Homo sapiens: one gene and its partners. The protein of the gene in region 6 interacts with the protein of the main gene of each other region in a pairwise test. Each region holds a gene or a part of one and is shown on either strand. Other genes may lie near its edges. The genes, in order: FAM13C, ZBTB26, GNL3L, FGF11, FRMD6, HMBOX1 and ZMYM5.

Region 1 (3,500 bases), on a different chromosome or scaffold from region 6:
TATTTTTCTGTGTCAACCCAAGTCTCATTATACACTCTATTAGTTTCCTCCAATTTTTGGTGTATCATCAACAAAATTACATATATAATCAAGAGATAAGGTTATTGATCTAATTTGGAAGAGAGATAAATTGCTTAGCTATCTTGAACCTCAGTTCCCATTTTATGAGCTGAAATGGTTGGACTCCTGGGATACTTTGGGAAGCTACAGCTGTCATGTGGGATATCAATCTTTACAAAAATAAATAAATGAAGAGTGTAACTTTCCCAAAGCCACAAGTTATTAAGTAGATGAAATGAGATTAAACTCATTATTCAACTCATAAACTCATCATTAAACTCATCAGTGCTACATGGGCTCCTCTGTATTCCTCTCCATTTAGGTATTGTATTTGACTTTTCAGTTCAGCAGGTTGAGGGTTGTCCTGATGGAAAGGGACTATTTTCCAAAAGCACCTTGAAACTCTCATGCGTGGTCTACTTACCTCTTAGTCCCTGGCAGGTTTTCCATTTTAGCCTACCAGGGATATTCTTTAGGACTGGACCTATTGAGTGAAAAGCTTTTTGCATTCAGCCAATACAGATGTAACAACTTATTTTCTACTTACAATCTTCCTTTCCAGTTGATTGCTACAAGTCCAACTTACCTTTTTGGTGATGTTAAGTAATCTAGTGAGAAATGTTATGTGGCTCATAAATTTAGAATATAAAGCATTTGTTATTTTTTTCCTTTTCCATACTTTTTTCTTTTATAAAATGTTCATGTAACTTTCCTTGTAAAATATTCCTTGGAGTAGTAACTTTGTCTGTCTGGACTGTCTGCTCCTATTATACTTTGGGTAAATATGTGACTTGCACTATAAAGTTCCTGATCTCTGCCTCTTTTGGATTAAAGGTATTCTATGGGAATTTTTCATTCAGGGAAATATTTGTGGAGATGTTATCACATATTCTAAATCTAAACAGTCATTACATATGAGAAATGACACTTTAAGATGTGCGTACACTCTTTTCATAAATTTGAGTTCCCTGAATAAATTTATATTTTTTAGCAATTTGAACTCAGGAATCTATCGTAAGGGGTTTGAGAACTTCCCAGTGTGCTACTAGTCCTGCCTACTGGATCTGCAGTGTCACTTGGTGTGCTTTTTGTCATACATACAGGGAAGTTAGTTATGTTCTATGTATAGTGTTCCACTGCACCTATGAGTCTTAAACCCACTTCAGATAAGTCTGTATTTGTCTATGAAGTTTTATGCCCCCTTGTGATGATATATTTCAACTAAATGCACAAGTGATGATCTTTTACAACTAAAATCAAACAGTTGAATGGCTAGGAAATATGGACCTTAATTTTGTTTATCTAAGACATTTTATTGGGAAGGCCTAAGCATCCATAAGTTAAAATAACCATGCAAATGGATTACTAAAATGTTTAAGGCACTATAAATGTTCTTGGTAATATTTGCCATACAAGAGGCATGAGAATCATGCAGATATTACATTATTATTAATAATTATTAGCCTGGAAGTGTGCTAAGCACTTTAGTATGTTTTATATAATGGAGAAACTCCTTCAGGAAAGACTTGGCAAAACTTTTCATTCTTGTCAAAGCACTCTTTTTTTTTTTTTTTTTTTTTTCTTTTGAGACGGAGTCTCACTCTGTCACCTGGGCTGGAGTGCAGTGACGCGATCTCGGCTCACTGCAAGCTCCGCCTCCTGGGTTCACGCCATTCTCCTGCCTCAGCCTCCCAAGTAGCTGGGACTACAGGCGTACGCCACCACGCGTGGCTAAGTTTTTATATTTTTAGTAGAGACAGGGTTTCACCATGTTAGCCAGGATGGTCTCAATCTCCTGACCTTGTGATCCGCCCGCCTCGGCCTCTCAAAGTGCTGGGATTACAGGCGTGAGCCACTGTGCCCGGCCTCAAAGCACTCTTATTAGCCAAAATGGAATATGCAAAACTACGGAAAATTACATAATTGATTATTAATGTTTCTCTGTAATAATTAGACAATTTCTTTACTTAGATCTATTTATACAAATTAAGGTGGTATTCAGACATCCAGCCATGATAAGTTTGACTCATAACACAGAATGGAGGCAAAGATATATGTTATATAATTTAGACAACAGTTAAGAAGAATGCTGTCTATGGATTTGTATACTGTTCTGAGTTCTGTACTAGAAATTGCAGGGCAATAAATAGTGTTGAAATACAAGTAGATACTATATTCTTAATTTGTATAGATTAGCTTGTTTTTTATTTGGTAAGAGATAGAAATATCTCTTTATCACTACTGGGAAAAATAGAAGGGAGCTAAAGATAAAACATTAAATATATGCTATTTACCTGGTTTCAGCCATACTAACATTAGAGAATACTTGTGGTTATATTCAGTTGTAATTGTGGTGACTATATCTGTGTCCTCTACCCCTTGAATTTCAAAGTCGTGGGTGGAAATGTTTTCAAAACGATTGGCTATCTTATTAACCAAGAAAACAAGAGCCTTCTGAGACCCTGTCGCAATTTTTCCCTTTAGAAAACGTTTCCTGACAACATATTTTTGTGGGAAGGCAAATGGTTTTAACTCCTGATATTACCAAGTTATTCTTCCAAGTAAACAGCAAGAGTATGCTGCATATGTATAAAAATCTATGCATTGTTACATGTCTAGCCTTAGTAGAATTAGTGTACAGAAGAGAACCACCACAATTTAGACTCTTGTCAATTACTTCAATCAAGGAACAGCTCAGTGGTTCTACTATATATTAGCAGAGATAGGTATTATAATTACAAGAAAATCTGGAAACGTTTCAAGTTTGTAAGACAGACCCTAAATGCTTTTCTTGTTACCATAGGTTTATGTTATTTTTATAATGAAATTCCTGTAGTATTTTCAGGTTAATATTTTTAACAACTGTATTAGGGCTGATCATTTTGTACAGCTGTAGGGGTGTGGCAAATAATGGAAGAATGACTGGACAAAGAATGCCTTGAAAGTTCTGTTTCTTGTTTGTTTGCTTCTCCTTAGATCTTTTCACTGACCCCTTTGTTGTAAGTCTAAGCACTAGACCACATATTTGCAAAACACTTATGACATTCAAGTTTTCAAAGGTTACTATTATTTAGAAACTTAGTAACACATGGAAGAAGGAGTGAATGAAGGTGAAAGGGAAGGAAAAGAAGACATGATGCAAAAACCAAGTGGAGGCCGTTACAGTATACTTTCTCATGTATGAATTATAAAAGAATGTTTAAATAATGACTTGATTCATTGTGAACTAACAAATGTATTTTTGTTTTGCAGAAGTCCACAAAAGGAAGATAGGATACCAATGGCAGATGAGTATTATGAATATAAGCACATAAAAGCCAAACTGAGACTATTAGAGGTCCTCATCAGCAAGCAAGATGTGGCCAAAACTATTTGAGGTTCAGGAAATGTTATGATCACTTTCACCCATGATATAAAGTAAAGTTTATTTTCCTCTGCCA
Region 2 (4,139 bases), on a different chromosome or scaffold from region 6:
TGGGTCAAAGAAGAAATCAAGGTCAGGCACGGTGGCTCACACCTGTAATCCCAGCACTTTGGGAGGCCAAGGCGGGTGGATCACCTGAGGTCGGGAGTTCGACACCAGCCTGACCAACACGGAGAAACCACGTCTCCATATCTCTAAATATCAAATTAGCCCGGTGTGGTGGCGCATGCCTGTAATCCCAGCTACTTTAGAGACGGAGGCAGGAGAACCGCTTGAACCCAGGAGGCGGAGGTTGCGGTGAGCCGAGATCACACCATTGCACTCCAGCCTGGGCAACAAGAGCGAAACTCCATCTCAAAAAAAAGAAAAAAAAAGAAGAAGAAATCAAAAGGGAAATTAGAAAATACTTAGAAATGAATGAAAATAACACAACATACAAAAACTTATGAGCTGTAGTGAAAACAGTGATCAAAGTGAAATGTATAGTTGTAAATAACTACATTAAAAAGAGGGAAAGGCTGGGAGCAGTGGCTCACACATGTAATCCCAGCACTTTGGGAGGCTGAGGAGGGTGGATCACTTTAACTCCAGAGTTCAAGACCATCAAGTTTTACACTTACAAATGATTAAAGTAATAAACATTACGCATGTTTTACCTCAATAAAAAGCCCCTCACCACCACCAAAAACGAAAAGAATGGTCAAAAACCAGTAAACTGGATTGGCAAGGAAAAGAACTCTAGAAGGATCCTCAAGTTTTCCGGTCTGGATAGGAGATGAGATGAACTTGAGATCATTAAAAGGTACTTTCACATCAGGACAGCTGGAGATCTCGTCCATGTAGCTGCCTGGGTTGTGAATGGTCAGCATGAAGTAGGTAACGGAAGCCATGGGAGTGCAAGAGTTTGCCCTAGGAAGAACTCCAAGGCAAGAACCCTGAAAAACACATCCAAAAGTGAGGGGAGAGCTTTCTGCTCTTCGGGCTCCCGCGCGACGAGTCTACACCCCTAGGCTAAAAAGACTTACCAAAGTTTAAGTGCAGAGGAGCCCTTCAGGCCCAAGGAGGCAGCGGACCGTCTAGGCCCAGCTACAGAAGAGCCGCTGAGACGGGGGTCCCGAGCAGCGGGTCCCTGCGAGGCGCACAGGGCCTGAGCCACAGACGCTTACGAGCTAAGGCACCTCGGGGTAGTAGGCAGTGAAGCTAGTGCCCAGAGTACGGTGCCCTCCGTCTGCGCCCCGCCCACAACGCAGAAATTCCCTCTCGGGGCCCCTGTTGTCCTCCGAGCCTTCCGATTGGCGGAGAGGACCATGGGACCTGGAAGTTGTCTTTGTCCGGCCAGGGCTGCCCTTCCGGTTCCGTTGGGTCCCCCTTTGGCTCGGGTTCCTTGCCCCTCCCCCTTCCCGGAGCCCCGAGGGGCCGGAGCTCCTGGCGGTGCCGGATCCTGACGGCGGCCTTCCCCCGGGTCTGTAAGTGCGGAGACGGCCGGAGCGGCGGGCTGGGGTGCGGGGTGTCTCAAAATGGAACCCCCCTGGGGCCCTGGATCAACCGGGACCTGCACTGGGATGGGAGCCGAGAGGCTGGCCTAGGCCCCTGGGGACTTGAGGAGCCCTTGGCCCGGCCCACGCTGCGCCCCGCCCCTTTCCCTTCCCTGTGACTGGAGTGGGGAGCCTGAGGATGCCCCTGGGACCGCCTCATAGGACCCCAGCTGAGGGCCCAGCAGTTGGCTTGGGGGCCTGACTCTGGCATCTTATAAGAAGTGCCAGAGGTGAGGCCCTAAGAAAACGAGCCTCGGGAGCCAGCCCAAGACCAGGCATTCAGTGCCAGTCTTTGAGAACCACTGTGAGTGCTAGGTTACCCTTTTGCTGGGGTTTTCCCCTATTTGGCCACTGGTCGCAGCACCTTTTATATTACTGGCGCTATACCAGACACTGGAGATTGGCAAGATATTGTTCCAGTTTTCGGGATTAAGTTTGGGAGCCAGATCTGAACAAATAAGTACTCCTATGTGTATATATATGTATGTATGTATCAGTCACATATGTGTTAATTGCTCAAGGGGCCGTTGCTGAGAAGGCTTTAGAAAGAAAGTGATGTCTGAATTGTACTTGGAGAGAGTAAAGTGTTGAAGAGTTTTTCAGGGAAGACAGTTGCAATACTGTGGAGAAATGACTGAGCATAACTTGTGTGGGAAGAGGAGGAAATGGGGGGACTCCTATGCACAGAATGGATATGAGACTGGGAAAGTCGACCGAGGTCCAGATGGTGAATGGTGTAATCCTAAAGGAGATGGGTAGTTTTTTGAAGAGTTCGGAACAGAATATTGATATGGTCAGATTTGCACTGCAGGAAATCATTTTGTTCTGTAGAAAGCCCATAGAGAAGGGACTTTCTATTAACTGCATTTAGACATTTAGCTAAAAGTTAGGAACGCTTATCGGAGATTCTTTTGAAGGGGTAATGGGATCAGCCTAGTGAGAGGCAAAAAATTCCTGAAATAAGTTATAATGGTGTCATTGGTAAGGAGACAAATATACTGGAGATGATTATGTCAAGACTCCATAATTAACTGAATGCTGAAGAAGTGTGAGGGACCAAATCTAATTCTTAGGTTTTAGACCTCTGAGCTGAAGGATGGTAATGCCATTATCAGAAATAAAGCCATAAGCTTAGTGTAGATTATGAATTCATTTTTTGGACATGTTGAATTAAAGGTCTAATGAGACAGACACATAGAGCTGTCCAGCATGGAGTTGGAAATGCAAATCTTTAGCTCAGCCTAAACATTGTAGCTAGAGGTAAAAGTTTGAGTTATCAGCATAGAAGTGGAAACCATGGCAATAGCTGGCATCAGGAAGAGAATTTTGAAAAATAAGGAAATTTGGGGGGGGAGGGTAATGCTTGCATTTATGAAGCAGAAAGAGGAATTGGAGCTAGTAGTAGTCAGCAGTAGGCAATAAAGTGTAGGAGTGCAGGGTTACAGCAAGCAAGAAGACCCAGAAATCAAGAGAAGGGAATTTCGAGGAGAGACCACTGGATCAATTCATGCAGAGCATCTGGAGACTTGGGGGAGGGGAGAGTATTGCATTTCTTTATGAAGAGGTCATTAGTGACCTTTTAAAAAGCAATTTAGTACAGTGATGAGGTGATACTCTATGAAATATTAGGTACCTCAGCTGGTTTGGTGTTAAATGGGAATAAGGATAGGACACATTTAAAGCATTTCACAAAGAAAATTGACAGGCTTTATTTGTATACCTAACACATGCTTATAGGGTACATACCAGACACTGTTCTAAGCTCTTTAAAAAATTAAATCATTTATTTTCCATAACAACCCTATGAAATAAATTACTATTGATAGATGGGAATATTGAAGCAGAGTGGTTTGAGTTTACACAGAAAGTAGTTGAGCAGGGTTTTGATCCTAGGAAATACGGCTCCAGAGTCCATGGTTTTACCCACTGCTCTATGCAGTGACTGAATATAGGAGCCAAAGGAGTGGGAAACATTTAAGCAAAGAGAGGCTCATTGATAAGAATGGAGAGGCTTGGAAAGAGACCCAGGTTGAGAAGAAGGTAAGTAAAGGATTTATGTTTGATATGTTTTTTATTTCTTTCTTCCTAAGTCCGTTTCCACTCTCTGCCCATTTAGGTTAATTTCTTCCACTTTCATGCTTTCATTTATCACTTACCATCTGTAATCAGATCTTTTCTTCATATCCATCCAGCTCATGAATCCTCACCTTGATGTCATGCAGGCTTCTCTGGCTCAAGACCAGACTCATGATCATGCCCTCCAATATTCCCTGCTTTGCTGAATGACATTCATCAAAGATATCCAGTTACAGAAACCAAATATCTTGGAGTCATCTTGACCCTTTCCCCACATTGGTCACCAAGCCCATCAGTTCTTTGTTGGAAATGTCTCTCAAATCTGTTTCCCCTCTCCATCCATATTATTGTTGTCTCTCTTCAGGCCCATGCCATTCTGTCTTGATCTGTTTAGAGTAATCACATACTAAAATGCTTCCTTGTACTTTTCTCCAAGCCATTCTCCATAAGAAATTTTTTTGGCTTATTGAAGTTTAGACAGTGCATGAGTGCAGGCATCATGCATTTCAAGTGATAGGGAAATAGCCTAGAACAGGTATTTTTGAGTACCTTGAATTGAGATTTAGTTTGGTTAAGTTT
Region 3 (3,500 bases), on a different chromosome or scaffold from region 6:
ACTCGTGACCTCAAGTGATCCGCCTGCCTTGGCCTCCCAAAGTGCTGGATTACAGGAATGAGCCACAGCACCCGGCCAGAAGCCACCTTTTCTAACAGCTGTATTTCATTTGTATTCCACTTTAAGGCTACAGCTTTTTAACCTGTTTCTTATTGATGGATATATAGGCTAATTCCAATTTTGTGATATTGGAAACAATGCTGTGGCTGGGCGTGGTGGCTCATGCCCGTAATCCCAGCACTTTGGGAGGCCAAGGTGGGCAGATTGCTTGATGCCAGGAGTTTGAGACCAGCCTGACCAACATGGCGAAACTCTGTCTTTACTAAAAATACAAAAGTTAGCCGGGTGTGGTGGTGCATGCCTGTAGTCCCAGCTACTTGGGATGTTGAGGCATGAGAATCGTTTGAACCCAGGAGGTGGAAGTTGCAGTGAGCCAAGGTTGTGCCACCACACTCCTGCCTGGGTGACAGAGTAAGACTCTGTCTCAAAGAAAAAAAGTAAGGGAAGAGGAGGGAGGGAATTCTGGGCAGAGGAAGTGGCATCAGGAGTAAAGGTTGGGATGGCTTTGTCCTGTGTGAGGAATTGAGGGAGGGTAGGCTGTGGGCCAGGCTCCCTCTCATCCCTGCGCAGGCAGGGAGGGTGGGCATCCCTGTTGTGCACACAGGGCACTGAGGCCTGGAGAAGGGAAGCAGGCTTTGCTGGACATAGGCCTGTGAGAAGTAGACCTGGAGCTCAAACCTGGCCTATTTAGAGCCAGGATGCCATCCTGCCACTGCCGAGGGAGGCAAGTGACATGTGTCGAAGCAGACGCAGGGGCAGAGGAGACTGGAGACACAAAGACAGTGGAGGGGAATGGGGAAATGACACGTGTTCAAGATCTGTGTGAGAAGCCTTCCGTTTCAGGCTGAGGAGCTCAGTGATCATAGGGAGGCCCTGAAAGTTGGAAATCTGGGCTCAGACCTCATCTGCCACCTGATGTCTCTTCTGTGATATTCAATTTTTTTTTCCAGAATCGTTGCAGTGTGCCAGTAGATCAGGCCTCTGAGTCACTGCTGAAAAGCAAAGCCTGCTTTGGAGCTGAAAACCTCATGAGGGTTCTGGGGAACTATTGCCGCCTTGGTGAAGTGCGCACCCACATTCGTGTGGGTGTTGTGGGTAAGACCTGCTGTGTGGTCATGGGGCTCAGGCTTCTTTCTTGAGCGGACACTTCGCTGGGGGAAAGGATCCTGGGAGCTTCATTGTCTTTTGCGGGGAGAGAGGAGTGGTTCAGGAGAAGGGTTTCGTGATTTGTAACTTGGATGGGTGGGCATCACTGCGTATTGAGTATTAGATTCATGGAGCAAATACAGGGTGCCAGGCTTGGACTTGGTACCATCTCATCCTATCAGAGCTATGGGAGGATGGGGTGACCGTCTACCTTTTACGGATGAGAATTCTGAGTGAGGCTCAGAGAAGGGCAAAGGGACTTTTGGAGCCCAGCCCTGTGCAAGACAAGGCAGAGCTGAGGATCAAAACCTGGGCCTTTCTGGAGCACAAGTTTCTGAGGGAGGGATGATGGGAATGGAGTAGGGAAATTGAGAGAGGCAGAGATAGATCACCAGAGAAAGAATGTGAAGCCACGTGAGAAAGACATTGGAGAGAGAGCTAGACACTGAGAAGGTATAGGTATGCATACCAGGATAGATACAGAAGAAGACACAGAGAACGCACTGGGAAGCCAGATGGCAGGATTGGTGGGGAATGGAAAGAGGAGACAGATTTACATGATGGAGGCATGTAAAGAGGGAGATACAATCAGAAACACCAAAAGGGACATAGAAACAGACATGCATACAGAGATCTGCCGAGGGAGACATAGGAAGGGTAGAGATAACCCATGTATGTAGAGAGGCAGACATGTTTTCTCAAAGAATGAGAGAGAAAAACATACTACAGGGATAGAGACAGATTCAGAGAGAGACATACATGGAAGCAGACTGGACAAGGCTGTAGATACAGAGGAACACATACACATAGCTCTTAAGTACACATACAGATCCACAAACACATACACAGACCCACGCTACAGACCCAGAGATCCAGAGGAGGCACATCTAGCGAGACAGAACCACAGTCAAAATGCATGTAGACCAAGCCCTTCCCACACACACCCACCCCAACGCTGCTCCCCCAACGCGCATAGAACCACAAGGAGGGCTGGATGTAGCAGCTCATTCATGCCTGTAGCCCCAGCACTTTGGGAGGCTGAGGCGCACAGATCACTTGAGGTCAGGAGTTTGAGACCAGCATGGCCAACATGGCGAAACCCCATGTCTACTAAAAATACAAAAATTAGATGTGTGTGGTGGCGGGCATTTGTAATCCCAGGTACTCGGGAGGCCGAGGCAGGAGAATCGCTTAAATCTGGGAGGTGGAGGTTACAGTGAGTTGAGGTTACAGTGAGTTGAGATCGTGCCACTGTTGAGATCCAGCCTGGGCAACAGAGCGAGACTCCGTCTCAAAAAAAAGAAGACACGCATGTGCCCACATACACTTTGACCCTCGAACATAATCACATACCTAGAGTTACAGAGGGACACAAATACCAGACATGTCACTATGAGGCAGGTATGTGTACCTGTACAGAGAGAAATAGAGACATACAGAGAGGAGGTTAAGGAGGCGCAGACAGGGAGAGAGTAGAAGAGACACCGTGAGACACATACAGAGAGGCATCCATGAAGTGACCAGCCCACAGAGATGAGGAGCATGGACAGAGGCTGACAGGAGTTGGCATGGAGGGAATTACAAATAGAGGCAGGATTGGTGGGGTGGAGAGAATCAGAGAGAAAAGAACAATGGCCAGAATGAGAGACAGACAAATTGGCAGAGAAAGAGGTGCTTAGATACAGAGACACAGAGAGAAACAAAGATAAGATAGAGAAAGAGACTGAGTGGGAGAGATACAAGAAAAGGAAAAAGTGGTGATACTGAGAATGGGAATGACCGAGAGAGAGAGAGAGAGAGAGAGAGAGAGATGTGTAGAGACTTCCATGCATGGTGATAATTTAGAATGAGAATGACCTAGAGAGAGGGAGGGGGGAGAGAGGTGTGCAGAGGCTTCATGCACGAGAGGTATACTTAGACATATACCTTTTTTTTCTTTAGGCAATCAGCTTTCTCGGGTTGAAACAAGCATATGCTTGAGACAATAGTACACACATGTAAATTGAGCACATACAGAAAGAGAACGGTGAGAATGAGGCCCAGTGAGGGGAAACACAAAGACATCCACAGGCTGAGAATGGCTGACAGATGCACAAACAGCAAAATACACACCTCAGGTAGACAGCTGCACAGAGAGACTGGCATCTGGAGATGACCTCCATCCCCATCCATGGAATGATACACCCAGACAGGTTGTTCTCTGTTTCTTAGACATTTCTCGATGTCCACCTTCTGTTGGATTGTGCCACTGAGGCCTTGCATTGAGGACCTCTGCCTGGCTGATTGTGAGTGGG
Region 4 (4,134 bases), on a different chromosome or scaffold from region 6:
GGAACCCCGGGGTTCCTCCTGCCCGGCTTCACCCTCCTATTTCCCAGCGTCTCCGCCCCCTGCCCCGCCCCCGGGCCGGCTCTCCGAGGAGGGGGAACTGCTGTCGCCGCCGCCGCCGCCGCCTCAGCTTCCCACAGCCGCTGCCGCTGCCGCCGCTCTGCCTGGTCCAGCCACCGGCCCAGTGCTCTGACTTCGCCGGACCGGGGAGCTCTGCAGAGACACCCTCACTCCTTCCCGAGGGTCCGGGACGCCTAGCCGGGCGTGGGGGGAAGCTCCGTTTGCGGGGGACAGGGAGGGAGGAGCCTGGAGCCGAAGCCAGCGCCACCCGTCGCCGGATCAACAGGACAGGACAGGTTGAGGGGCGTCGGGAAAAGGAAGAGGGGGTGCTATAGGCAATCCCGGGGAGGACGAGGAAGCCCTGTAGCAGGAAGCTGTGATCCGCTCTGACTTGTAGGGGGCCTGTTCACATCTGGGGACTGGTGACAACGTGGGTGCACTCCTCTCTTGGGGGGCTGGTTAGATTGGAGGGCGTGGGATCTAAACAGCACCAGCTGTCCCCAAGAAAATTTAAGGGGCAGCCAGGGGAGAAAAAAACAAAAACAAAAACAAACACGGATGCTCCTCATTTTGAGGTGGCGGAAGGCCCTCCAGTCAACTACCTGGTGTATCCACTAGGAAGGGTGGATTTGGAGGTGACTTCAAAAGGAGCGGAGGGTGTGAAGGTGAAGAAAGGGTCTTGGCCGCTAGAATTCTATGCTACTAGACATGGGGGGGACTTGGTGAAAAAGGTATTATCCAGCCAGAGGGTCTGGGAGCCCTGTCTTACTGAACCTGGGCAACCTGGATATTCTGAGACATATTTTGGGGGGATTTCAGTGAAAAAAGTGGGGGATCCCCTCCATTTAGAGTGTAGCAAAGGAAAAAACACCAAGGTTGGGTTCCTTCCTGACATTGGCAGTGCCCCAGTAGGGGTGGGATGAGCGAATATTCCCAAAGCTAAAGTCCCACACCCTGTAGATTACAAGAGTGGATTTGGCAGGAGTGTGCCCCAAAATACAGTGGAAAGGTGCCTGAAGATATTTAAACCACGTCTTGGAAATTTAGTGGGTCTTGGCTTTGGGATAGGTGAAGTGAGGACAGACACTGGAGAGGAGGGAAAGGGGACGTTTTCAATAGGAGGCAAAACTCGAGGGTGGGATCCACTGAGGAGTACATAGGCTGCTGGATCTGGTGGAGCCAGCACTGGGCCCACGGGTGGTAACTGGCTGCTGTGGAGGGGGGTACGTGAGGGGGGGGGTCTGGGGCTTATCCTCAGGTCCTGTGGGTGGGGCAGCGAGTCGGGGCCTGAGCGTCAAGAGCATGCCCTAGTGAGCGGGCTCCTCTGGGGGAGCCCAGCGCGCTCCGGGCGCCTGCCGGTTTGGGGGTGTCTCCTCCCGGGGCGCTATGGCGGCGCTGGCCAGTAGCCTGATCCGGCAGAAGCGGGAGGTCCGCGAGCCCGGGGGCAGCCGGCCGGTGTCGGCGCAGCGGCGCGTGTGTCCCCGCGGCACCAAGTCCCTTTGCCAGAAGCAGCTCCTCATCCTGCTGTCCAAGGTGCGACTGTGCGGGGGGCGGCCCGCGCGGCCGGACCGCGGCCCGGGTGAGTGCGGCTGGGGCGGGGTCTCCCGGCCAGAGGTTTCTCTGCCTGGGAGATTGAGGCCAGGGACTCTGAAGAATAGGGCCCGGCTGAGGGGCTCCCCGAAAGTGGAAGGGGGTGGGCCAGGACGACAAAGTCCCTGCCAGACTGTGCCTCAGTTTCCCTTCTCTTTTGTCCATAACCCGGAGTCTCCTTATTTTCGAGGTCAAGGGGAAGGCTTGAGGGGCTGCCTGGCGCCCCGAAAGCCTCGTAGTTCCTGCTCGTCCCCCCTTCCCAACACAGCAGTCCCCACCCCCATCGTCCTCCGCCTACGTGCCGGTTCTCGCGATTCTTTCAATCTGGAGCGGAGGGGCCCGGGGGTTTCCAGATGCCTGGGTCACCCCAAGGATTTCTGCAGCTCCAGCCGCACGCCCCCCCCCAGCCCCCGCCTGCCCCGGTTCTCCCGCTCCTCCACGCCTGGGCTCGGTTCCTCCTGGTCGAGCTCTGCTGGCTCCGAGCCAATCTCCCCAGCTCTCCCTCGGGTGTCCTTGCAGCTACCTCGCCAGCCAGCCCTCTATGCGCCCTCCTCCTGTGACCTGCGCTTCAAGAACGGAGCTGGGCACCCCTCCCATAACCCCCGCGCCACTCCGAAATCGGGTCCCGTAGGCTCAGGGGACCCTACGCTGGCAGGAACTCAGACACAGTTCACGGCTAGAGATGGGCGCCGACTCGGGGGTCGTACCACCTACAAGGGGGGACAGGGAAGTCGGCAGAGAGCAAGCGATGGGGGAGGAGAGTTGTGAGAGTTAGAATTGGTCCCCGTCCATGTACGACAGTCAGGGAGTCCCTCTGGCCCTGCTCCCGCCCGCTCCCAGCTCCCCTAAGGGTAGCCACCTCGCGCCCTCCTCCCCGCGCCACCGGCTGCCCATAGTGGTACAATCCGCAGCCCACCCTCTGAGTAGGACCGGGCCCCCACGTGACTCAGCCTGCCTCTCCATCTCCTCAGCTCCCACCCCCCATATCCTTGGTAAGGTCCCCCTTACCCCAGGCGAGTTACCTGGCCGAAGGGGAGAGGCTGAGCCTCAGGGAGAACTGGGCCCCCGGGAGCCAGCGGACTGACAGACAGACAGACAGACAGACAGATGGGTCAGTGTCAGACAGGCCGGCGCTGGGCCAAGGCAAGGCTCTCGCCAAGCTAGCGGCAGCCGCAGCAGGTGCTGAGTCAGCGTCAGGCCCAGTCCCACCCCCACTCCTGAGGGAGAGCCCCTACCCTGTGGTCAATTTGCTGCTGCCAAGATCCCCCACCTTCGCAAACACGCTGCCCCTTCAGTACCCCTGCTGGTCTCCCTCTGTCCCTGCCTTTTGATATATCTCTCCCCTCCCTCCTCCCCCACTCCTTCCCCCTTCTGGTTGAGCTGTAGGGTAGGAATTAAGCCATTTAAATAAATTTCAATAAATTACACTGAAAGCTCCTGGTTATAGGAAACAGAAGGGACCCACACCAGCTTTCCCAGGAGTGAAAGAGAGGTGGGAGAGAGCGTGCTTGGAGGATAAGAGAGCTGGGGCCCTGGGACCCTCTTCCTTCCTTTCATTCTCCTTTCTTCCCTCTAATCCTGCCAAGTGTAGGAATGTTTCTGGGAACGGAGATGTCATTTTCAAAGATGAATGTCTCTCTCTCCAGAGCCTCAGCTCAAAGGCATCGTCACCAAACTGTTCTGCCGCCAGGGTTTCTACCTCCAGGCGAATCCCGACGGAAGCATCCAGGGCACCCCAGAGGATACCAGCTCCTTCAGTGAGAGGGGAAGCTGGCTGCAGGGTGGGAAGGGGGAGAATGGGGACAGGAGATGACAATCCTATTCCCTCTTCAGCTTCTGTTGCCATTGATCCGTCTTCCTGACCTCTAAGGGAAAAAGTGGAGCTGGGATGAGGGGAGCTCAGGTGAGGGTCAGAGGCCTGGGTATTGATGCTCCCTCTCTCCACCTGCAGCCCACTTCAACCTGATCCCTGTGGGCCTCCGTGTGGTCACCATCCAGAGCGCCAAGCTGGGTCACTACATGGCCATGAATGCTGAGGGACTGCTCTACAGTTCGGTGAGACAATGAGGCTGAGTGGCCGGGAAATACTGGGGACTCCCCTTCCTCAATTTGTCCCTTGAGGGAATGACAACCTTCCTCAACTACAGACATTTTGCCCGGGACTCCTCCCTCCAGCTTTGCTGATGGCCTGTCATCGCTGCCCATTCCAGACCAGCTCCTCTAGGGTCTCTCCAGTCCCCACTCCTTGCACACCCCCAAAACAGCCCCAGGTTCTTTGAATGTCCAACTCTTTCTGCCTTTTAGGGCCCCTACTTCTTATCCCACCTCCTCCAGATTTTGTCATTACTCACTTCCCTAGAGTCATCCAGGATAGGGGATAGTGAGAGACTGGGAGTACAGTGGAGAGAAGGAATCTTATTGCAAGACCCCTAAAAGTCTAGTTCTTTTTTTTTTTTTTAAATAGTGACAGGGTCTTGCTATGTTGGC
Region 5 (3,500 bases), on a different chromosome or scaffold from region 6:
TTACTTTGATCACAAAAGCATCCTATTTGCCAGTAAATATTTTTTGGAGCTTTTACCATGTTTTCCCCAGTCAGCATTTCTTAACGTATTTAATGATGACTGTATTTATTTCTGATCTCAAGAGATTGTAATGAGTGCTCTGTTAGTATTTCCTTTTGTGGGGAGTATAATAATTGTCGTGACATGTGCCTGTAAAAACATAACAGTAATGTAACATTCACTTCAAAAAAATCCCCAAAAAAAGATTTAAGGAAAGCATTCATTGCATTTCTTCTTGGAGAAGTTTAAAAAACGGAAAAGAAACCTTTGTTAAGCAAATTTTTTTCCAGAAGAGTATATATGCAAATACTTATAAAGGGCCTTAGAGTATTTGTAGTGTGTTCAGTTAAAAAATAATAAAAAGAACAGCAAAACACTGAAGCAGGATTGCTCCTCAGATTTTTCCTTATTTATGTCACGTGTGTAGCATCATTGTAGCAACATTAGTACAGACAACACATGTCTAGTTTCTATTCTAATACTTGTTCAGTGAAATATTTACCATTTTAGAGTGGAATGATTCAGACCTTTTTCTTCTCTGAATGAATCAAATGCTGTAAGCCTTAGGAAACGTTATTTTTATTGTCTGGATAGTCTGATTTGGGGTTCTGACCCCCTGCAACCTCAGTGAGGCAGCTATCAGATATTAGCTACAACCGCTTCCTTTTCAGTGAGGTGGGAGGGAGGAGCAGAAACAGAAGGGTTCCTGTCACCAGATGGAGAGAAGGATTTGGGTTCTGTTTACATGTCATTGGATTATTCCATCAAAATGTGAGTTCTGTTTTCTTTTATTTTTCTAGTGACAGAGCAGCAAGATACTATTATTACTGGCACCTGAGAAAACAAGTTCTTCATTCTCAGTGTGTGCTCCGAGAGGAGGCCTACTTCCTGCTGGCAGCCTTTGCCCTGCAGGCTGATCTTGGGAACTTCAAAAGGAATAAGCACTATGGAAAATACTTCGAGCCAGAGGCTTACTTCCCATCTTGGGTAAGCACTGTTTTCAAATTCGAAAGAGTGTTTTCTCTCGGGCATTTCTAGTTCGTAGTGTTGCTACTCATACTCTTTAAGAAATGGGAACACAGATGTTCTGTGGCCAAATTCTTTGTGATGCCCAGATATTTAATGCTTAAGAACGTGGTGCACATCATGTCTTCATGTACTTAGTCTGCTTATGGTGAGTGGGGTAGAGAATTGCCATCCATCCTGATAATACAGTGGAGCTTGGAATTTACCAGCCTCCTTTCAGCATTGACATGCCCTTGACCTTCTTGCCTACTCTTACCGAAGCAGTATTTTCTCCCTTTGAAGGCAGAAAAACATAACTCTTTAAAAAGTAAGATTATTCCTCGCTTTCCTTTGCTGCGAGAACAAGTATGTCAACTTCTGGCTCCGGCCTCCATGTCCTCCACTCTCGGGGAGGAACTAACCCCTTCTTTCAGCAAGAAAATGTGGGTTATTCCAACGTGAACTGTCTCAGCTGCGCTTTCTCCACTCCACCCTGTCTGTTTCTCTTCCCGTCCTTCCTCCATGTCTAGGCTGTATTTTCTGTCTCTCTTCTATATCATTAGCCCCTCCCCAAAGTAACTCTTCTTCAGTGAGAACATGCAAAACATGTTTGGTTCTCACCCACCCATCCTTGAGAAAGAAAGTGGGGAGGGAAAGAAGAGCTACTACTCTTGCCTTTCCTTCTCAGTAAAGCATCTTGAAGAGGTAGTGTGTATTTGATTTTTTCAGCTTCTTTACTTCCCACAAGTGTTCCTCAAGCCATTTCCATCTGCCTTCTTTCCCCATCAGTCCACTCATGGTGCTGCCTGTTAGGTTGCTTTATATCAATACAGTAAAGAAGTAAAAAATTAAATATGCACTACTTTTGCTTTATATTGACACCAGTTGCTTTATATTAACATATCCAGCAGACTCTTTTCACTAAATTTTGCTGCTGTACCTGACACTTAACTACTCACATCTTGGGAGATCTCATCCAAATTAATGCTTTTAACGATCACCTATGTGAAGGCAAGTCCCAAATCTGGTTTTTTCCCCTATATCCATAAGGTAGCTGTTTACCCATAGGCCGTTCAAACTCAAGATGTCCTAAATCAAATTCATTTTCTTGCCACCTCATTTCTACGTATTCCTACCTCTGAGTACGTGGGAGTCATACGGAACTCTGCCTTATCACCATTCCTTCTCCCTGTCCTGTCCCATCAACTGTAACACCTTGTAATGTCTGTGCTTGAATACCAATCACCCAGCTTAAGAAATAAAATTATCTTCTATTTTTATTGCCATTAGCCTTCCTAAATGTCCATTGCCTCCTCTCCCTGTCTTAGCTCCTGCTGTTTCTAGGTTCGTGTTCTCAGCAGCACTGTTGCAGAAACTTGTCCCTGCTTCGGTCTTTACTCCACAGCTTGCAGATGAGATGATTTTGCTTCTGACTTAAACTTTCAGGGCCTCCTCTGTCACCTGTGGAGTGAAGCTCAGGCTCCCATGCATAACCTAGAAACTCTCCAGATTATAGTCCCTGCCAGCCATTCCAGCTTCCTTTCTGGTTGTCCTGCACCTTGAACTTTAGGCTCTGGCAACATCCAGCCATTGGTGTGTCTCCATACTTACTGTGGTGTTTCATGCTTCAGGTCTTTCTTCTTGCAGTTCCTTTAGCCAGTGAAGCCCCTCTCTGTTTCACCTGGCTAACTCCTACTCATCCTCCGAGACTCAGCCCAGGTGTCGCTCCTTCTGGGCAGACCATCTAGGTGCCCAGTGCTCAAGAAGAACCTGGGAATAGTGTTTTACATCTTATTTTAAAATGATTTATTTCTTGCTCCCAGTAAACTGTTTCTTAGTGTGTTCTGAAAGACGGGCATAACCTTAACCTTTTCTATTTCATCAGCTCTTCATATTGAGGTACTCAGTAATTTTTTGTTGTGTGACTTAGAGTGCTTCATTTTTTTGGAGAGAAATCACAATGTCTGTCAAACTATTGCTGTCTGTAGCATGTTTGCATTCTCTGGTTGTCATCAGGTGCTCATTGAATATTGATTATTGAAATCCAGTTAGTATGCCAGGGCAACCAGTGTGCTGAGATATCAGTTTCCCCCACCCTTGGGATCACCAAAGCCATCTGCTTTAGTGCCCTTACAAATACTGTTTTCAGTGTGCTTTTGACCTGAAAAAAAGGTTGATAAATAACTGATTTAACTGATTACCATGTGAAAAGAACCTGGAAAGAAAAATCTGTGTAACTTGAGTTCTTAGCAGAACTTGACAACTGACTATTAATTCATCATATTTAATTCTCTGTAAAATATTCAATAGGAAGAAACAAAATGTCAATATAAAGACATTTTAAAACCAAAAAGTCTGTAATTTTTAAATTTTGATTATTTTAAGCACGACTCTTGCTCACATTGCATAATTCTTTCCATCTGTTAAGTTCCTTATGGAATCAGCTAAGACTTTAA
Region 6 (3,500 bases):
TTAAAAGTTTATTTTTTAGATGAACCTGACATTGCAAACATACCAATTTTTTTTTTTGTTATGAGAATCTGAATATTGGCTAGGTTTTTTTTTTTTTTCTTTTTTTTGAGATGGAGTTTCGCTCTTGTTACCCAGGCTGGAGTACAATGGCGCGATGTCATCTCACCGCAACTTCTGCCACCCAGGTTCAAGTGATTCTCCTGCCTCAGCCTTCCTGAGTAGCTGGGATTATGGGCATGCGCCACCATGCCCGGCTAATTTTGTAGTTTTAATAGAGACGGGGTTTCTCCATGTTGGTCATGCTGGTCTCGAATCCCCCCTCAGGTGATCCACCCGCCTTGGCCTCCCAAAGTGCTGGGATTACAGGCGTAAGCCACTGGTCGGCTAGTTTTTTTTTTTTAAATGAGGAATTATAATATTAGGACCCATTAAAATTTTCTGGTAAAAGTTAACGATAACATTGAAATTGTCCACAAATAAAATGTGTAAGATTTAAATGAGGCTGGGCGTGGTGGCTCATGCCGGTAATCCCGGCACTTTGGGAGGCCAAGGCAGATGGATCATGAGGTCAGGAGTTCAAGACCAGCCTGACCAACATGGTGAAACTTTGCCTCTACTAAAAATACAAAAATATAGCCGGGCGTGGTGGCACACACCTGTACTCCCAGCTACTCAGGAGGCTGAGGCAGGAGAATCACTTGAACCTGGGAGGCGGAGGTTGCAGTGAGCCAAGGTGGCGCCACTGCACACCAGATTGGGCAACAGAGCGAGACTCTATCTCAAACAAACAAACAAAAAAAGATTTAAATTTTAAATAAATTCAAGGCTTACATGGTATGTTTGTTGCTAGAGAGGATATGTTAGAATCTGTGTTAGATAACCAAAATTACAGCTATTTTGACATTAGTTTGGTTTTGACAGTGTTAATGCAAACTTGTCAGATTAATTGATTGTCAGCATATGTCATAGTTTTATTTTGTACTTGTTGCAAGGGAACTAGCTTTAAAGGAAGTTAGTTCAAAGATATTTTCAGAAAAAGGATCTTTACAGAATAAAAGGGGAGGTTATGGTTACTATTTTTGTTAGGTACAAGTTAAAGGATAGTTACAGGGTTGGTTATACTTTGCTGCCCCTTAATCAGCCATATGATTATAAAGCCTGTCTTAAAAGATGAGGCTGTTAATCCAATATACTATCGATTATTACAGACAACAACGGAAGTCTGCTTTAAACAGGCTAACAAAATATTTTCAAATGTATTAACAAATAAAGGTAGATCACCTGATTTTTGTCTTCTCTGGGTTTGAGACAATTTTTCATTTGTCAATACTGTGATAATTTCTATTAAAAAAAGACAAAGTTTAATTTGTTTCATTAGCAGGAATATGACAAATATTGATGGTACTTCCTGATAAATAAGATTCATATTTACAAAGCTTTTTGGCTACCTGTGATTTCAGTTTTTTCCTGGTAGAATTATTTTTTCCTCCTTGGATTTATGTTTCTAGCTTTCTATTTGTCTTGGTGTACGTACTAAAAAATAATGCTTGAATTAGGGATCATTTGGCTTCAAGGACAGGCGTTGTAGGGATTCAGCTGTTTTGGGTTGAAGAAGAGTGACTAGACCTTGTGTGAATGGGAGAAACGTTAGGAATCTGAGAAGCTAGTCTCTCAAGCTCTCGTTCTGGTGATAAATGGTTTCTTGTCTCAGCATCTCCTTCCATGTCTGCTTCATCTCCCTTTCTCACTTCTCCCTTCCAGTTCTGTTTGTATTGCCCTGGTTTTTCATAGTCTCTGCTTCTCTGACTGGTAAGTGGATTTGATTTGCCATGGTGTTGACTTGAACTGTTCTTTCAACTAGAGTTTACCTGTTGATGGTGACAGTGTGTTTCTTTTAGTTCAGTTGGCAAGAGAGAAATCTGAATGCATTGCATGACCACCATGACTTAAATGTCTATCCTTATCCCGTGACCTTGGTGGGAGGTAGCGTGGAAAGCACCTTTTATATGAGGCTTAAGCTTTTAGATGCTTTTTATGAGGAGGGTTCTCTTGTTGGTGTTGAACAAGGCACTCAGTTAAACATGTCAAGTCTAGCAGTGCGTGATGAGGTACTTTGTGGGATACAAAGATAGGTTGGATTTAATCCTTTTCTGCAAGGATCAGTTTGCTGGAAATAGCAAAAGACTCCTATAATTTAAGATTTGCTTTTTATTCTAGTCACCTCAGGCAAACCAGAAAGATGACAAAGTAGGACTATAAGAACTAGCTAGGATTAAGGAAGGAGAATGAGAGGTAGCCCTGGATACATGAACGTACTATCTCTACAGTTTGGATCACTAACCTACTAAGCATGAAAGTATCTAGAAGCCATTGTATCAGGATCCTCATTGCTGCTATCAAAGACTATCCCTTATTGAATAAAGAAGCTCTTATTCATATCAAGTAGACATTCTTTTGTCCCATCATTAAGATCTAGAGACATCTTAGGAGAACTCATTTCATCACTACTCTAGGAACTGGAACATTCTCATAGGCACCCTCTATCTATATAGTGACAACTGTTCTCTTAGCAAATGTCATTCATCCCTGACAAGAAAATTTGTGCCTTCTTTCTTTAGAGACAATAAGCAGGAATTCAAATAGTTGAGTCTGTAGTAGTGAGCATCTTGTTCTCTGCAGATCTGGCAACAAAAGAATTGACATACTGGGTCAATCCAATGTCCAGTCAACACCATAGGTGATATTTAACAAAAGCTCCATGATTTCAGGGAAAGGAACTGGAGCTTTTTATTCCTATGTCAGTATTGGAGTTTATATGGACTTCAGAGCTAAAATTTCCATATCCAAGTCTTTATTATATTACCAAACCAGGGCCAAGATTTTTAGAAATAAGTACAAGTCAAGGATAGGCAACTAAGGAACCTAGAAGATTGGAGTCAGATTACAAAGCCACAGGAGATAAATAGTTGGGGAGTCACAGAGTTCTAAGCACTTAGGCTACAACAGAAGGAAACAGTGATCTCAACTTTTGTGTTGAAGAATTGCCTGGAAAAAGTATTAAAATTTTAGTTTCTGGCTGGGCGCAGTGGCTCACACCTGTAATCCCAGCACTTTGGGAGGCTGAGGTGGGCGGATCATGAGATCAGGAGTTCAAGACCAGCCTGGCCAACATGGTGAAACCCTGTTTCTATTAAAAATACTAAAACATTAGCTGGGCATCATGGCGCGCCTGTAATCCCAGCTACTCGGGAGGCTAAGGCAGGAGAATTGCTTGAACTGGGAACTGGGAGGCAGAGGTTGCAGTGAGCTGAGATTGCGCCACTGCACTCCAGCCTGGGCTACAGAGCAAGATTCCGTCTCAAAAAAAAAAAAAAAAAATATATATATATATATATATTTTGTTTCCTGAGTTCTACCCCCAGATTCCTAAAATCTGAGATGGGCCCAGGAATATATATCCTTCATAAGTATATCAGGTAATTCTAATTGGTATAGTCCTC
Region 7 (3,500 bases), on a different chromosome or scaffold from region 6:
AATATGCTTTTTAAAAATCTTTTCCCAGCTAGGCATGGTGGCTCATGCCTGTAATCCCAGCATGTTGGGAGGCCAAGGCGGGCAGATCACTTGAGGTCAGGAGTTCGATACCAGCCTGGCCAACGTGGTGAAACCCCGTCTCTACTAAAAATAAAAAAATTAGCTGGGCGTGGTGGCGGGCGCCTGTAATCCCAGCTACTTGGGAGGCTGAGGCAGGAGAATCGCTTGAACATGGGAGGCAGAGGTTGCAGTGAGCCGAGATTGTGCCACTGCACTCCAGCCTGAGTGACAGAGTGAGACTCTATCTCAGAAAAAAAAAAAAATCTTTTCCCTGGGTATATCTTCCTCTGAGATATGATTAGGGATTCTTTGCTTCTATTGCAGAAACTAGTTATCTCATTGCTTGCTATGCTAATCTGGTTCATATATCTTAGTTAATGAATTCTGGTTTTTCTTTTAGATTCGCCATGAAGTCAGCGTAAATAATGTAACACATAAACTGTGCAGTAACCATTGCTTTAATAAGTACAGATTGGCCAATGGTCTAATAATGAACTGCTGTGAACACTGTGGAGAGTACATGCCTAGTAAGAGTACTGGAAACAACATCCTGGTGATTGGAGGTCAGCAGAAGAGATTTTGCTGCCAAAGTTGTATTAACGAATATAAACAGGTAATTCTTTTTCATGAGCTTTAAATGATCAAATATATAGTAGCTTCACCCTTACATCTTACATGAACCGGATTTATCTTAGAATCTCATTTAATTCCATTTTGCCATTCTGTCATTGGTTTGTCCCATCTCAAATATTCAAGTCTAAGATTGTTGTAAGCTTGTTTTAAAAATTTTCTTTGGGCTGGGTGCAGTGACTCACTTGTGTAATTCCATCATTTTGGGAGGCTGAGGTGGGAGGATTGCTTGAGCTCAGGAGCTTGAGACCATCCTGGGCAGCATAGTGAGACGTAATCTCTACTAAAAATTTTTTAGAATTAGCCGCAGGCATGATGGCATGTGCCTGTAGTCTCAGCTACTTTGGAAGCTGAGGTGTAAGTATTGCTTGAACCTGGGAGATTGAGGCTACAGTGAACTATGATTGTACCACTGCACTCCAACTAGGCAACAGAGCGAAAGCCTGTCTCAAAAAAAAAAAAAAAGAAAGAAAATGATCAGGCACAGTGGCTAACACTTGTAATCCCAGCACTTTGGCCAAGGCAGGCAGATCACTTGGGGCCAGGATTTTGAAACCAGACTGGGCAACATGACAAAACCCCCTGTCTACTAAAAATACAAAAATTAGCCAGGCGAGTTGGTGTGTGCCTGTAATCCCAGCTACTTGGGAAGCTGAGGCATAGGAATCACTTGAACCTGGTAGGCAGAGGTTGCAAACCCGAGATCATGCCACTGCATTCCAGCCGGGGTGACAGAGCAAGACTCTGTCTCAAAAAAAAGAAAAAGGTTACTCCTGGATGAATTTAAAAGACTAATTTTTCTTCTGTACCATTTAGCACTCCCACTAAGCACTTGATAATTCTAGTTGCTCTACATTCTGACCAAAATTTGGAGCCAGGTGAGGTGCTTCACGCCTGTAATCCCTGCACTTTGGGAGGCCCAGGTGGGAGAATCAGCTGAGGCCAGGAGTTCAAGACCGGCCTGGTCAACATAGCCAGACCCTGTCTCTACAAAAAAAAAAAAATTAAAATGTGGTAGTTGTCTGTTTTGTCTATCAGGTCTTCAGCCCATTTTTTATTGAATTCTTTTTGTTACTGAGTTGTAGGAGTCCTTGGTATTATTCTGGATACATGTATTTTATAAAATAAATATATTTGGAAAAAAATTTTTTTTCTTCTGTTTTTTTTTTAAAAGAAAAAATAGGCTGGACGTGGTGGCTCACGCCTGTAATCCCAGCACTTTGGGAGGCCAAGGCGGATGGATCACCTAAGGTCAGGAGTTGGAGACCAGCCTGACCAACGTGGCGAAACCCCGTCTCTACTAAATACAAAAAAAATAAGCCGGGCATGGTGGCTGGCACCTGTAATCCCAGCTACTCTGGAGGCTGAGGCAGGAGAATCGCTTGAACCTGGGAGGTGGAGGTTGCAGTGAGCGGAGATTGCGCCATTGCGCTCCAGCCTGGGCAGCAAGAGCAACGCTCTGTCTCAAAAAAAAGAAAAAGGAAATACAGGTGGGTCTCAATATGTTGCCCAGGCTGGTCTCGAACTCCTGGGTTCAAGCAGTACTCCCACCTCAGCTTCCCAAAGTACTGGGATTATAGGCATGAGCCATTGTGCCTGGCCGGAAGATTTTCTTTCAGACTGATTTGTCTTTTCATTTTCTTAATGTTTTGTTTTGTTTTCCTAATATTACTTTTGAAAAGTACAAGATTTTAATTTTTATAAGTCCTATTTATTATTTGCTTCTCTTGTGATTAATAGTTTTTGTGTATTTAAGGAATCTTTGCCCACCAAAATTACAAAGATATTTTCCTACATTTCCTTCTAGAATCTTTTCAGTTTTAGCTTTTATTTTTTAGGCCTGTGATTCATTTTGAATTAATTTTGTATATGGTGTTAGATGTGGGTTAAAGAATTATCAACTTCCTGACTTTAAGACATTAAAATGCTGCAATAATCAAGGCAGTATGGTTTGGTATATAAACAAATGGGCTAACAGAGATCAGTGAAATAGAAGATAGTCCAGAAATAGAACCACATAGTAGATTTTTCAAGAAGGTACCAAATTATTCTGATGGGAAAAACAAGATTTTTTAACAAATTATGCTGAAATAATTTTTTGTTTGTGTGGAAATAAATGAGCCTTGACCCCTTTTCATTGCATACACAAAAATTAAGATAGATCATAATGTAAAACTGGAAATATTCTTAACCCCCATTTCACTGGATGAGAATTTAATTGGTTAGCTTCAAGGGAAAGTAACCCTGAATTGCTAGGCTTTTATCGAACAGGAGAAACAGTGGATACCCATAGTTGACTTTTCTGTTTATTTTTGCAAGAAAACCTTATTTATGTTAAATTATTTTTTCTTTACATATATTGCACCTAATATTTAAGAAAGCTTTTGGTTTATAGAAGAACACAATGAACATTAACAAATAGAAAGGTCCAGGCACGGTGGTACGTGCCTGTAATCCTAGCACTTTGGGAGGCCAAGATGGGAGGATGGCACTAGTCCAGGAGTTGGAGACCAACGTGGGCAACATAGTAAGACCCCATCTCTACAAAACAATTTTTTTAATTAGCCAGATATGGTGGTTGTACACTCGTAGTTCTAGCTCCTCAGGAGACTGAGGTGAGTGAGCTATGATTGCACCATTACACTCCACCCTGGGCAACAGAATGAGACTATCTTTAACAAAACGAAATTTAAAAAGACTTAATATTGTTAAATTGTCTTTTCAAAGACAGTTACATGACAAAAGTAACCTACTGACCTTCTAATTTGGAAATAAAAACTATATTAAGTCTTAATATTTTCCAAGCCTTT

What was found.
Region 1: the proteins of HMBOX1 (region 6) and FAM13C interact in binary tests that used the Homo sapiens proteins (3 or more experiments, as listed by UniProt).
Region 2: the proteins of HMBOX1 (region 6) and ZBTB26 interact in binary tests that used the Homo sapiens proteins (3 or more experiments, as listed by UniProt).
Region 3: the proteins of HMBOX1 (region 6) and GNL3L interact in binary tests that used the Homo sapiens proteins (3 or more experiments, as listed by UniProt).
Region 4: the proteins of HMBOX1 (region 6) and FGF11 interact in binary tests that used the Homo sapiens proteins (3 or more experiments, as listed by UniProt).
Region 5: the proteins of HMBOX1 (region 6) and FRMD6 interact in binary tests that used the Homo sapiens proteins (3 or more experiments, as listed by UniProt).
Region 7: the proteins of HMBOX1 (region 6) and ZMYM5 interact in binary tests that used the Homo sapiens proteins (3 or more experiments, as listed by UniProt).

What each region holds. Positions count from the first base shown.
Region 1 is NC_000010.11:59,247,550-59,251,049, reverse strand, and holds part of FAM13C (protein FAM13C), read left to right. Parts: intron 1-3,279; exon of another isoform or gene 3,280-3,312; coding exon 3,313-3,436; 3' UTR 3,437-3,500.
Region 2 is NC_000009.12:122,928,713-122,932,851, reverse strand, and holds the start of ZBTB26 (zinc finger and BTB domain-containing protein 26), read left to right. Parts: upstream 1-1,339; 5' UTR 1,340-1,415; intron 1,416-1,586; exon of another isoform or gene 1,587-1,788; intron 1,789-4,139. UniProt on the Homo sapiens protein: May be involved in transcriptional regulation.
Region 3 is NC_000023.11:54,547,219-54,550,718, forward strand, and holds part of GNL3L (guanine nucleotide-binding protein-like 3-like protein), read left to right. Parts: intron 1-1,010; coding exon 1,011-1,155; intron 1,156-3,500.
Region 4 is NC_000017.11:7,438,178-7,442,311, forward strand, and holds the start of FGF11 (fibroblast growth factor 11), read left to right. Parts: upstream 1-1,334; 5' UTR 1,335-1,443; coding exon 1,444-1,636; intron 1,637-2,590; exon of another isoform or gene 2,591-2,639; intron 2,640-3,273; exon of another isoform or gene 3,274-3,277; coding exon of another isoform or gene 3,278-3,293; coding exon 3,294-3,404; intron 3,405-3,598; coding exon 3,599-3,702; intron 3,703-4,134.
Region 5 is NC_000014.9:51,703,910-51,707,409, forward strand, and holds part of FRMD6 (FERM domain-containing protein 6), read left to right. Parts: intron 1-839; coding exon 840-1,026; intron 1,027-3,500.
Region 6 is NC_000008.11:28,896,895-28,900,394, forward strand, and holds part of HMBOX1 (homeobox-containing protein 1), read left to right. Parts: intron 1-3,500. UniProt on the Homo sapiens protein: Binds directly to 5'-TTAGGG-3' repeats in telomeric DNA. Associates with the telomerase complex at sites of active telomere processing and positively regulates telomere elongation.
Region 7 is NC_000013.11:19,832,650-19,836,149, reverse strand, and holds part of ZMYM5 (zinc finger MYM-type protein 5), read left to right. Parts: intron 1-460; coding exon 461-673; intron 674-3,500. UniProt on the Homo sapiens protein: Functions as a transcriptional regulator.